Regions from separate parts of the Homo sapiens genome. Here regions 1, 3 and 4 are each linked to region 2. The links come from fine-mapping of genetic effects on gene expression. A gene starts in region 2. Each other region holds a variant in brackets. All regions are shown on one strand. Distances are from middle to middle. Region 1 overlaps LOC107984568 (a long non-coding RNA gene). Region 2 holds the start of DLEU1 (deleted in lymphocytic leukemia 1). Region 3 overlaps DLEU1 (deleted in lymphocytic leukemia 1). Region 4 overlaps DLEU1 (deleted in lymphocytic leukemia 1).

What was found.
Region 1: its variant is fine-mapped to the expression of DLEU1 in testis (GTEx, PIP 0.93).
Region 3: its variant is fine-mapped to the expression of DLEU1 in whole blood (TOPMed, PIP 0.94).
Region 4: its variant is fine-mapped to the expression of DLEU1 in blood mononuclear cells (TOPMed, PIP 0.91).

Annotation. Positions count from the first base shown.
Region 1 is chr13:50,682,012-50,684,699 of GRCh38, reverse strand. It overlaps LOC107984568 (a long non-coding RNA gene), which reads left to right. Exons shown (of 3, transcript XR_001750074.2): 3 at 699-979. Among named protein-coding and RNA genes, the nearest start is that of DLEU7-AS1, 120 kb to the left of the region's middle. The variant G/A (reference allele first, on the strand shown) is at 1,320.
Region 2 is chr13:50,080,946-50,083,633 of GRCh38, reverse strand. It overlaps DLEU1 (deleted in lymphocytic leukemia 1), which reads right to left and starts at 1,465. Exons shown (of 7, transcript NR_109974.1): 1 at 1,077-1,465; 2 at 440-492. The region is part of intron 1 of DLEU2 (deleted in lymphocytic leukemia 2); the gene reads left to right. RefSeq lists an enhancer at 541-1,336 and silencers at 1,494-1,543, 1,944-2,163, 2,027-2,321.
Region 3 is chr13:50,154,097-50,156,784 of GRCh38, reverse strand. All of the region lies in intron 2 of DLEU1 (deleted in lymphocytic leukemia 1), which reads right to left. Among named protein-coding and RNA genes, the nearest start is that of DLEU2, 30 kb to the right of the region's middle. The variant A/C (reference allele first, on the strand shown) is at 1,175.
Region 4 is chr13:50,148,540-50,151,227 of GRCh38, reverse strand. The region is part of intron 2 of DLEU1 (deleted in lymphocytic leukemia 1); the gene reads right to left. Among named protein-coding and RNA genes, the nearest start is that of DLEU2, 24 kb to the right of the region's middle. The variant G/A (reference allele first, on the strand shown) is at 1,309.

The sequences.
Region 1 (2,688 bases), 600 kb before region 2:
TCAATGTCCACCTATTTTTATTTTCATCTGAGCCTGTATAGCCAGACAATGGAAGGAAGTGTTTCTCTTGGTGACCCACAGTAGCCTTCCTTCCTCCCGGCCCATTGCGGTGGCTGTGGTTGTCTCATTCCCTTCTGTGTGCTAAAATCAGCCCCACTCAGAACCTCCCCAGACTCTGGTCTGTGCCTTTTACTTGCCTTGTGTGGTTATTTTGATTGCTATAGCAAGAACCCTATTTGTAAGCAGGCTGAGCAGTGTCAAGCATAGATGACCTGGGCGACAGCCCCAGGCACTTGCCTCTTGGTGCCTTGTGTCTAATTCAGAGGCATGAGGTGCTCTGCCTTATTTATGGCAGCATGTGAGGGTTCCATCTTGGAGAGCAGATGTTAGCCTTCATCTAAGATAGTGGACATCTTGGGCTTTTGATATTGGCATCAAAGCTCCTACAAAGTGCTCTGGGACCCATTGCAATATAGTCTTCCTTGGACCACTCTAAGCAGAGGTTCTTGAGAGAGAAAGAAGACAAACATGTTATGAGAATAAATCATCATTAAGGACAAAGAGACTGAAAAAGCAGAACAATCTTGAGCAAAGGATGAGGACACCAGTCATCTCTTTCTGCACCAGCATCTCTAGTGCCCAAGAACTTCTGGCACATGGTATTACACTTTATCTTTATCTTTATCTTTATTTTTAAGGGAAGGGAGAGGTCAAGCATGAGAAAGACTGATGTGGAAGTAAAGAAACCTGAATTCTTGACCCCGCCCTGCTACTAGCCAGCCTTCTGATATCAGGTACACTTTTATTTCATGTATTTATCAAGCATCCAGTACCTAGCCAAGCATAGTACTGGCACTTCAGGAACAACACAGATGAATAAGAAATAGGATCTGTTTTTAAGAAGCCCATGGGGAAGCAGACCCATACATAAAATCTAAGCCACAAAATATTGTAGGATCTACTATGTAGGGTGCTTGAGGGTAGGTCCCAGGGGTCTCCAAGAAATGCATGATTGATGGTAACTGGTTTGCGGAGGAAAGGATTGGCATAGGCTCACCTCAGTCTTCCTGTTACCATAACAAAGGCAGACTGCAGTATCTATAGCATCATTCTTCTAGAACTGTAAGTATCTCTGAATTTATGTAATTGGGGAACCACAGCACAGAAATGATGGGTATTTTCCCATAGTCCTATGAAGATTTTGTGGCAAGGCCAAGGCTGGGACAGAAGTATTGGGACTCCTGAAACAGTGCTCCTTCCATCAGCACTAATTCAGTCTCGGTGCTGAGTTGCCTTACAAAGTTAATTAATTCAAACAC[G/A]TCTGCTTATTTTATCCAAAACAGAACTTGAAATATCCACAGTGGTTCTCAGCTTGAACCTAATTTTGAACAAAGAGAAAGAACTGTTCTGCAAACCCTCTCCATTTTTCTCACAGCACATGATGAGCACTGGGGCTCTTTGCAGAAGTCCCTTATGGTAAAAACAAAACAAAACATAGTGCTCACTCCAATAAACTTGCAGTCAACCCTAGCCCAGAAGCAAAATCCCGTGCAGAGAATACAATCCCTTGTTCCTCACAAATCTAAAAGGGAAAGAGATTTGTGAGTAGAGCTTTCAGCTATGCGAATAGACCATTGTTCATCAGGCATCTCATTGTAAATTCTACTTTAAAACTTGTTTGTTTCCACTGAACCCCTGAATTTTTTACTTGTGTACCTATTTGTAACAAAAAGGAGAATTCCAAAAGCACAAAGGAAATGTAGAGGATGAGAAAGAGAGAGGGAGAGGGGAAGTGAGGTGGGGGGCGGGAATTGAACTGTGGAGTTCAAATGAACCTGTAGCTAGTGACATCTGCACTTATCTAACTCGGGTTTGGCCACACCCTATAAAAATGCACATTGAAGAGTTTAATGAACATTGGTTCCTTGTCAGATTAGCAAACTTTTCACTATCTGACTGTAATGTTTCCAATGCTTACATCTCAGAGGCTCAACGTTGAGGGAGACAGAAATCATAGGAAAAAAGAGCAATTACACAGTGTCTCAGTTGCTCACCCTCTGGGTTCCAAGAACTCAGCTAGAAGCTGAGGCAGATCCATTCATTGTGCTCCCAGATCTCTTCTCCCGGTTTTAGTTGAGCCCATGGCTGTCCAGGTAACTACTTCATTTTCTATCAGCTCTGTAGCTAGATAAAACCAATGACTAGATTCTGACCAATGAGATGTGACCTGCAATGATGTACTCCACTTGTGGGTCTTGCCCTTCAAACAATTGGGCATACATTCTCCAGATCATTTATCCCTTCCCAGTGTCTGTAAAACAGCAAGAACAAGCATTGTCACTTTGGATACAGAAATGGAAGCCATTTGTTGAGGATGTCAGTAGTGCCTCCCCATCAGCTCTGAACCATTCACACCTGAGTGGTAAAGTGAGAAAGAAAAAAGTTTCCAACTTATTTAAGCCACTATACCCTAGGGTCTCTTTGTTATAGCAGCTTACTTCAACCCAAACTAACTACCCCCATGGTGTGGGGTCAGAGTCTGGCCAAAAGATGCATTCATGCTTTTCTAGTGACATAGACTCACCCTTTCTCTTTGTCATTGACAGTGGGAAAAGCAGAGCTAAGCCAACTTTCAATACCACATGTAGTATTCATTTCTAGATGTCTGTCCTAAGGAATGTTGAAATT
Region 2 (2,688 bases):
TACTCTCTTATTTAACATTCACAATGAAGGTTTTAAAATATTTACAACTTTATAGGGCTCCACGCGGTGGCTCACGCCTGTAATCCCAACACTTTGGGAGGCCGAGGCGGGCGGATCGCGAGGTCAAGAGATCGAGACCCTTCTGGCCAACATGGTGAAACCCCGTCTCTATTAAAAGTACAAAAATTAGCTGGGCGTGGTGGCACTTGCCTGTAGTCCCAGCTACTCGGGAGGCTGAGGCAGGAGAATTGCTTGAACCCGGGAGGCGGAGGCTGCAGTGAGCCGAGATCGCGCCACTGCACTCCAGCCTGGCGACAGAGCGAGGCTCCGTCTCAAAAAAAAAAAAAAATTACAACTTTATTATCGTTAATTGTCCTATCAGAGTGCCCATTTTTTTTGAAGGTAGACAGGTTTGCCTAGATATGGTGCTTCTACTTACCAGTTCTAAGACTTTGGGGCAGATTTCTTAATCTGAACCTCAGGTGTCCTCATCTGTAAAGTGAAGATAATACCTACTTCATAAGGCTGTTGTGAGCAATAAACACGATTAATTCGTAAATCATTTATTTAGCACAGTGCCCAGCACACAGTACACAGTCAATACGTGGTAGCTGTCAGTATACCAACGTGTTGCACAACAGAAACTCGTCTTTGCTGGATTCAGTTCACTTATCACGCCATTAAAAAAAAAAATCATCCTAAGTGACACAGAAAAACTGCCCATTCCTATCTCAAAAAGTTTATGAACAAGTTAAGACGGTAAGAGAAACTGAATTCAATGAAAGCGCCTTCGCAACAGGCAGCTTAGGACCGGGAAGAAGGGCTTCAGCAAACTTAATCATTAACTCTAGGCAGGCGCGCGCGCACACACACACACACCGTTGAAGAAGGAGACCACGCCTCCTGTGTGGGCTCAGGTTGAATCGTACAGCGTGGTAGAGAACTCCAGGGCTGCTGAATCTGACAGATGTGGATTCATCCACTTCTGTGCCACCTGTGCTGTCTTGGGCAAATTACTTAACGTCTCTGAGCCTAGGTTTCCTGGTCTTCAAAACGAGAACAGTAATAGTTCCTACCTGGTAAAGTTGTTCCGAGGCTTAAGTGCGATAACCCCTGTAAAGCGCTGGAGAACGGCAAAAGCTCTACAAGCCGGCAGGGCGGTTTTAAATGCACGTGTATCCATATACAAGGTCTCATTGATACATTCCGTTGTTTGGAGTTTAGACACTGGCTGTAAGACGTTTTTCTTTTCTCCTAAGCAGGACCCGTATTTGTTTACCTCCAACGTAGACTAAATGCCTGTGGGCTGGTAGCTATAAGACGACCCCTCGGCCCCACAACCTCTAAGTTCACTTCACCTCCGCGGCTTTGCAAAAGCGCTACACGCACGCGCAAGAAGCAAGAGGACTGCAACCGAAGAAGCAAAGGGAGAGCCGTGCACCACGATGATTCTGCGCATGTGCCTGGCGGGAGGAGGGGGGAGGGTTGGAGTTTGCGCATGCGTAAAAATGTCGGGAAAGCAAGAGAAGGGGGGTTAAGAGGCGGTATTGACAGCTGTGGAGGCAGCCCGCGTTCCCGGCATTCCCTGGGGCGGCGGGGTTGGCTCTAACGAATTTGAATGAGGAGCCTCAGCGCTTTCGGCGCCATTTTCGAGTGATGCCTGATCTCATCAATCTAGCGGGAGAGACAGGATAACCTGTCCGAGAGTATAGCGCCACTATGACTCCGCCGGAAAAATTACTTTAAAAATCGCCAAAAATTACTTGGAGCAAAGGGCAGTCGGCGGAGCTTCGCCAAGGCTGGCGCAGTCGGTAAGAGCCTGAAGAAGTAGCAGAGCGGGACTCGGGAGGTGGCAGTGGTGGGACCCGCAGGCAGTGGTGGGTGCAGGGAGTGGGCGCGGGGTCTACTCTCACTTAATCGCGAAAAATCCGAGGAAGTAGGGTTAGGGGCAACTTGGGCGTCTGCGAGTGGGCGGCGGCGGGCGGAATGTGGCGGGAGCGCGGAGAGACGGGGCTGTGGGGGGAGGGGAGCTGCAGTTTGAGCGGGACGCGGACCGGCTGCGGCGGAGCAGCCGCCGCCCAGCGGATCTGTCAGCAAGACCCCCCGCCCGGGACCGGAGCCGGGGACGGCGCACTGCGGGGTCTCTGCAGGCGGCCGCTCCTTGACAGGAGGACTGGACGCGCGCCCCTCCCCCATTTCCGAACCGGGCCGCCTTTTCTCGCCGTTTTCTCGACCCGGTGATGGCCGTCATCTCGTGACAAGAAACTTAAGGTCGACAGAAAATTCAGGACCCGGAGTCATGGGTCCCTCCGGTGGGTCGTGGCAACAGTCCCCCCCGCCACCGCCCGGCACCCATCTATCTATATTGTCTTTTGACGCTGAAGCGTGAGGTGCCCCAGGAAAGAGTTTCCCAAGCCCTGGCTGCCCTCCCCCGGCGCGCTGGGTCCCGGTGAGGTCTCTAGGTAGGTAGGACTGGCCGCGGCTCGCGCTTCCAAGATGGGGCAGGGGCAGGCTTTTGAGGTTGTAGCGGGCTCTTAGGAAAGATGCTGGACTTTAGCTTCTTTCTGGGGATTTTTGTCATTTGCTCTCGCAGCGTTGTCCTTTCTCAAAGGGGAGGAGTGTTCACGGGTGAGATGAAAGATGGGGCTTCGAGCTAACGATTTCCTTCTCGTGGCTATTTCCTCCGAG
Region 3 (2,688 bases), 73 kb before region 2:
ACTTTCCTGATGCTTTGAAGTTTTTTGGGCAGTGTAATAATATCAGGATTTGTAGGACGTTATTTTGCATAATCCTTAATAAGATATTCTTATGGCTTCAAAAAGTTAGTGGGTTAAGAGAAGCAAGAACCTCCAGCACTCATAGGAAATATTTTTTTAAGTTCTGGGTAGAAATGGCTCAAAATGCATCTCGGGAAGATACATAATTATAAGACTGTCCAAATGTGTGTTCAGGCAGGAATGCACCTAAAACTATTCTTCATAGATGGATTTCTACTCTATCTTTAAAAGATAGAGATATAATATAATAATCTCTCAAAAGCTCTGATGAAAACAAAGAAGCTTGCTGGAGGATTCTACTATGTGTGTGGATTAAGTAACTCTGTGACTAATCCAACTATTTGAATCAAAACAAGGCATTCCTTTAGAATCTTTATCACTCTAACCTCACACTCACTCACTGATGAGGACTTTTTTCCAGGCAAGGTCAAAGGGCTGACCAAGGTGATTCTGCACCACCAAATAGAAAGGAGGCTGGAGAAGGGAGAAGTGCAGCGGCAGGATACAGAAGCCACAAAATCTCTCTGCTGGAAGCCAGTTCACCTTATTATTACCAAGAAACTGAGGTTCACTTTCTGGCATTTTGGCCTGAGCATTAAAATTTTAAATTAACACCATTGAACACAACCTACTCTTTTTTTTAATGAGCATTTTATTGTCACTTTGTGGAAGGGTACTGAAACCTCTGATTTAGTATAATCATATGATTATGATTTATTCATATTGGGAATTCAGCAGCATGGGCAACAACAACTCGGGTCTGGGGGGAAAAAAAACAGCCTCACTAAATAAGGGATGGTCCCACCACTAAATATGGGGTTAGGAGTGAGTTTCTCTTTGGTTAAATACACATGCACACATATTTCAGTAGCACGACAAAGCGAAAACAAACAGAATAAAGGTGAACATTGTACTTGGTAGTTGGAAATGAAGTGTGTCATTTTAATATATATGAATAACTGATTTTTCCCCACTTTTTGGAATCCAGATGTTGGTAATCTTTGCCTCAGAATGACGATTGCCTTTTTAAGAAATCTCTTAAAACTTTAGTAGTGGTCCTCACACAAAAAGACACTGGGTCTGGGCACGGTGGCTCATGCCTGTAATCCCAGCA[A/C]TTAGGGAGGTTGAGGCAGGCAGATTACCTGAGGTCAGGATTTCGAGACCAGCCTTGCCAACATGGTGAAATTCTGTCTCTACTAAAAATACAAAAAAAAAAAAAAAAAAAATTAGCCAGGTGTGGTGGCGCATGCCTGTTATCCCAGCTACTCGGGAGGCTGAGGCAGGAGAATCGCTTGGACCTGGGAGGTGGAGGTTGCAGTGAGCTGAGATCGTACCACTGCACTCCTGCCTGGGTGACAGAGTGAGACTTCATCTCCAAACAAAAAAAAAAAGACACCGACCTAGAGGTAAAAATATTCAAATTCCCTACGTTGCTACCTCTGACAAATGAGAACTACGGGTCCACACAAGTTCACTTATCAGTATACCCACCTAAAAGATGCATCTTTCCCTGTTTGGGGGCATATGATAGAATTATAAAAGTAAATGACTTCATTAAGATAAAATAGGTCTCTGGTGTTTCAAGACAAAACCACTGGACAAAGAACAGACAATGCATAAAAGAAATACCTAATGGCCAATAAATATACAAAGAGATGCTCAGCCTTGCTTGTAATGTAAATAATGCAAGGAAAACCAGTACAGCAATTTTTCTATCAGGATGGCAAACTCTAAAAGACTGACAGCAATGTAGGCATGCAGGGGAATGTGCGGAAACAAACACCTTTGTGTATTGCTGATGATAATGTAAATTTGTATGACTTGAGCATAAACTCAGCCAACTCAGCAAGTTTATCACTATCAAATTGTTAAATGTTTCCACCTTTTGACCCAACTTTTAAGGTTTCCTTAAACAGATAATTGTACATGTGAACAAAGAAGATGCAAAAACATATTAATTGCCATGTGATTTATAATAGTGAAAAACAGAAAATAAATTATGTCCACTAATAGAAGATTGGTTAAATAAATTATTGCTCATTCATTCAACCATTGGTTGAGGGCCTACTGAGTGCCAGATAGTATTCTATATACAATATATATAATGCATCCATTAAAATAATGATGTAGATCTATAGTGATTAGTATGGAAAAGGTTACAAAAGTTTGTATTGTATTTTTTCATTTTGTAAGAGTATGTATATATTTACTTATATATATTTATATGTGAATATATATGCATTGAGAATCATCTGTAAAGATGACCACCAATATGTTATATTACCCATGGTTATCTCTAGGATTGTTGTTGTTAGTATTGATCTTTATGAGAGTCATCTGTAAGGATGATCACCAATATGTTATACTACTAGTGGTTATCTCTGGGACTGTTGTTATTATTGATCTTTATATTTTTCAATACTGCTTGAATATTTTTACAATAAAGCTATATAATCTTCATACTCTAAAAATATTAGGAAAATTTTTGAAGGAAAAAAGAAACCTTTTGGTCAATTTAATCTTATTAATATGCAGGAGAAAATACCACACAGCCACAGAATTCCAGAAATCCAGCTGCAGTTCTAAGAAGTAAGACGCAAAAGCAGATGCTTGCCCACAGGATGAGGT
Region 4 (2,688 bases), 68 kb before region 2:
GATCGCTTGAGACCAGGAGTTCAAGATCAGCCTTGGCAACATGGAGAGACCCCATTTGTACAAAAAATTAAAAAATTCGCCAGGCCTGGGGGCATGTGCCTGCAGTCCCAGCTACTCAGGAGGCTGTGGTGGAAGGAGGATCACTTGACCCCAGGAGGTCAAGGCTGCAGTGAGCCATGTTCGTACCACTACACTCTAGCCTGGGCAACAGAGTGAGACCCTGTTTCAATTTAAAAAAAAAAAAGAAAAGTTAAGATAGTAAATTTAATATTGTGGAATTTTTTACCACAATTTAAAAAACGCTTCAATCTAAAAAAAAAAAGGAATGTATTGTCAACATCTTTTAGGTTATGTCTAAATAATGAACTAAATTTAAAAAACAGAGTTCAATTCTTTGAAAAATATTTTACTAACATATTGTTTGACAAAAATAATAAATGCACTGAGATGTTTTTGTTAACATGATTATATTATACTTAAATTCTTGTGGTAAGTATAATACTATATTTATGTCATGGCAATATAATTTTGGGATTATTAAGCCTAGAAGTCCAGAAAAACTCATCCACTGTGTTAAACTAAATGATCTCTCCAACATTCCATCTGAGTCCAAAATCCCATAATCCTTATCCATTTATTAATAAGAACTAAATGGAACACTTCTTCCATTTTTTAGAGACACACATACACTTCTATATCTCAAAAGCTTAAAGGAGCAGTTTACATGAACACATAGAAGGTATAGTGTTGAGGAAAAACGTTTGAAGTCTTAAAAAAAAATTACAAGGGCACTTCATATTTCATAGGCCTCACCCTTACTCACTGAAATATTCTTTGAGGGAGATCTTATGTATGTTTTAGCTGGTTGAATTTTTTAACCTCCTTCCCATCCCTGCTCCAATCACTACTTACCACCAAATAACAATTAGATATCAAGAAAACTAAGCCTGTGACAAGGTGAACACTGGCTCTGCCTCTGCTGAAACAGTCAAAGGCATGAACTAGCCTGGCTCTTCTCCATATCTTTTCTGGCTGAGGTCCAGTTGGCTTGGTGTAGACTCAAAGGACCAGCAAAGAGCTTCCACAGGTCATCTGGTTGATTCTCCAGTAACTTAGGCAAGCCTCCACCTATCTAAACCATCCCTTCCACACCAGTCCCTGTCTTATTTCCAAAGATCTCCAGAAAAAGAGATGCCATGGTAATGCATTCTAATGTTTAACAAACCTCACCACTGGGAAATCCTTTATTTCCAAGCTAGCTCCCCGCTGCAGAAGTTAAAGATAATTTCCTTTTGTTCTCTTCTCAGC[G/A]GCAGGAGAACAGCTGGTCGCCAGTCTCCATATAATAACCTTTCATATACTTGAAAACTTTTATTAAGCCACCCACTAGTTTCTCTTTTCCAAGCTGAATAATCCTAGCTCCTTTAACCTTTCTTCATAAGTCTTATTTTTCCAACCTTTTAATCAGTTTTGTTCTCCCCACTGTATTCTCTTCTTGCTCTAATTTATGTAAAAGCCCTAGACTACTGGAAGTGAAATCTGAGCTGTTAAGGCACTGAAGTGGACTGGAGAGGTAGTTCGAGGCCTGTGAAGCAGGAGCTAGAGATGGCAAGCTGGGATGACACAGAAAAAACTGGAGAAAGAATTCACATAGTCAAGATAGTCTTAGGAGTGGTCTTAACAGCCATTCTGAATTTCCCCTGATTTCTTGCAGAGTCATCATATTTCCGAAGCTGTCATTGGATAACATTACATCCAGCTTTAAATTCTGTGAATGTCAGTCTTGACCAACATTTGGAGAACATGTTTTCCAAGGCACCCTTCAGTACAACTTTAGACTGCAATAAAATAGGTCATACTGGCTGACTCAGAAGAATGCAAATCTCCAGTAACTCATCAGCTAATAAATGCGGAACACAAATATTAAACAAACACCAAGACACATGATTTGACTCTATCCCAGTCTTTCATCAAGAGATAGGGCATAATAATGTCTGAGACAAACATTCCTTGTTCTGAGATGGTCTGACACGCACTGCAGTTTTGATCTAAATCCCAGGTGGCAGAAAGTCCTGAAAATGTCAAGGTGTTTAAGAGCACCCTGAGTTCCTGCGCCCCAAAGGAAGCGTGCCATTTGTAACTCACCAAGAGTTTTCTTTACGAGTGTTTTTTTTTCTATTTTTATTAAATAAGAATCCATGAATAAATGTATTCAGATGCATAAAGTTAAACTTTTTACTCTTGATTATGACAGGAGAGTACAGAGAAAGAAAAAAGGAAGGAAAGATAGAAGAAAAGACAGAAGGAAAGAAGAAAGGAAGGTGGGAAGGAAGGAGGGAGGGAGATGGGAGGAAAACAAGGAAATAAAGAGGAAGAAAGAAAGTTGGGTTTTGCAAAATTAAAAATGAAACCTTTCCTACTTTGTGGCCTCAATAAGGTTAAACATCTTGGCAAAATTCTACTTCTATTACGCCCATTTTAACAAAGACAAAGTGGAGTGTTTTAAAGTTCTCATTTCTCAAATACAGTATTTCTACCCCAGTCATTTTTTTAGGGCATAATTTTTCCCCAAACAGAGTTTAGTTTGTATTTCTCAACTGTAAATCAAATTATATTCTTCAGGACCAAAGCAGGCTGCCTTAACAGTTGTATGCATGTCCCTGCATACATCTGTGAGTTGTGTGTGTATTT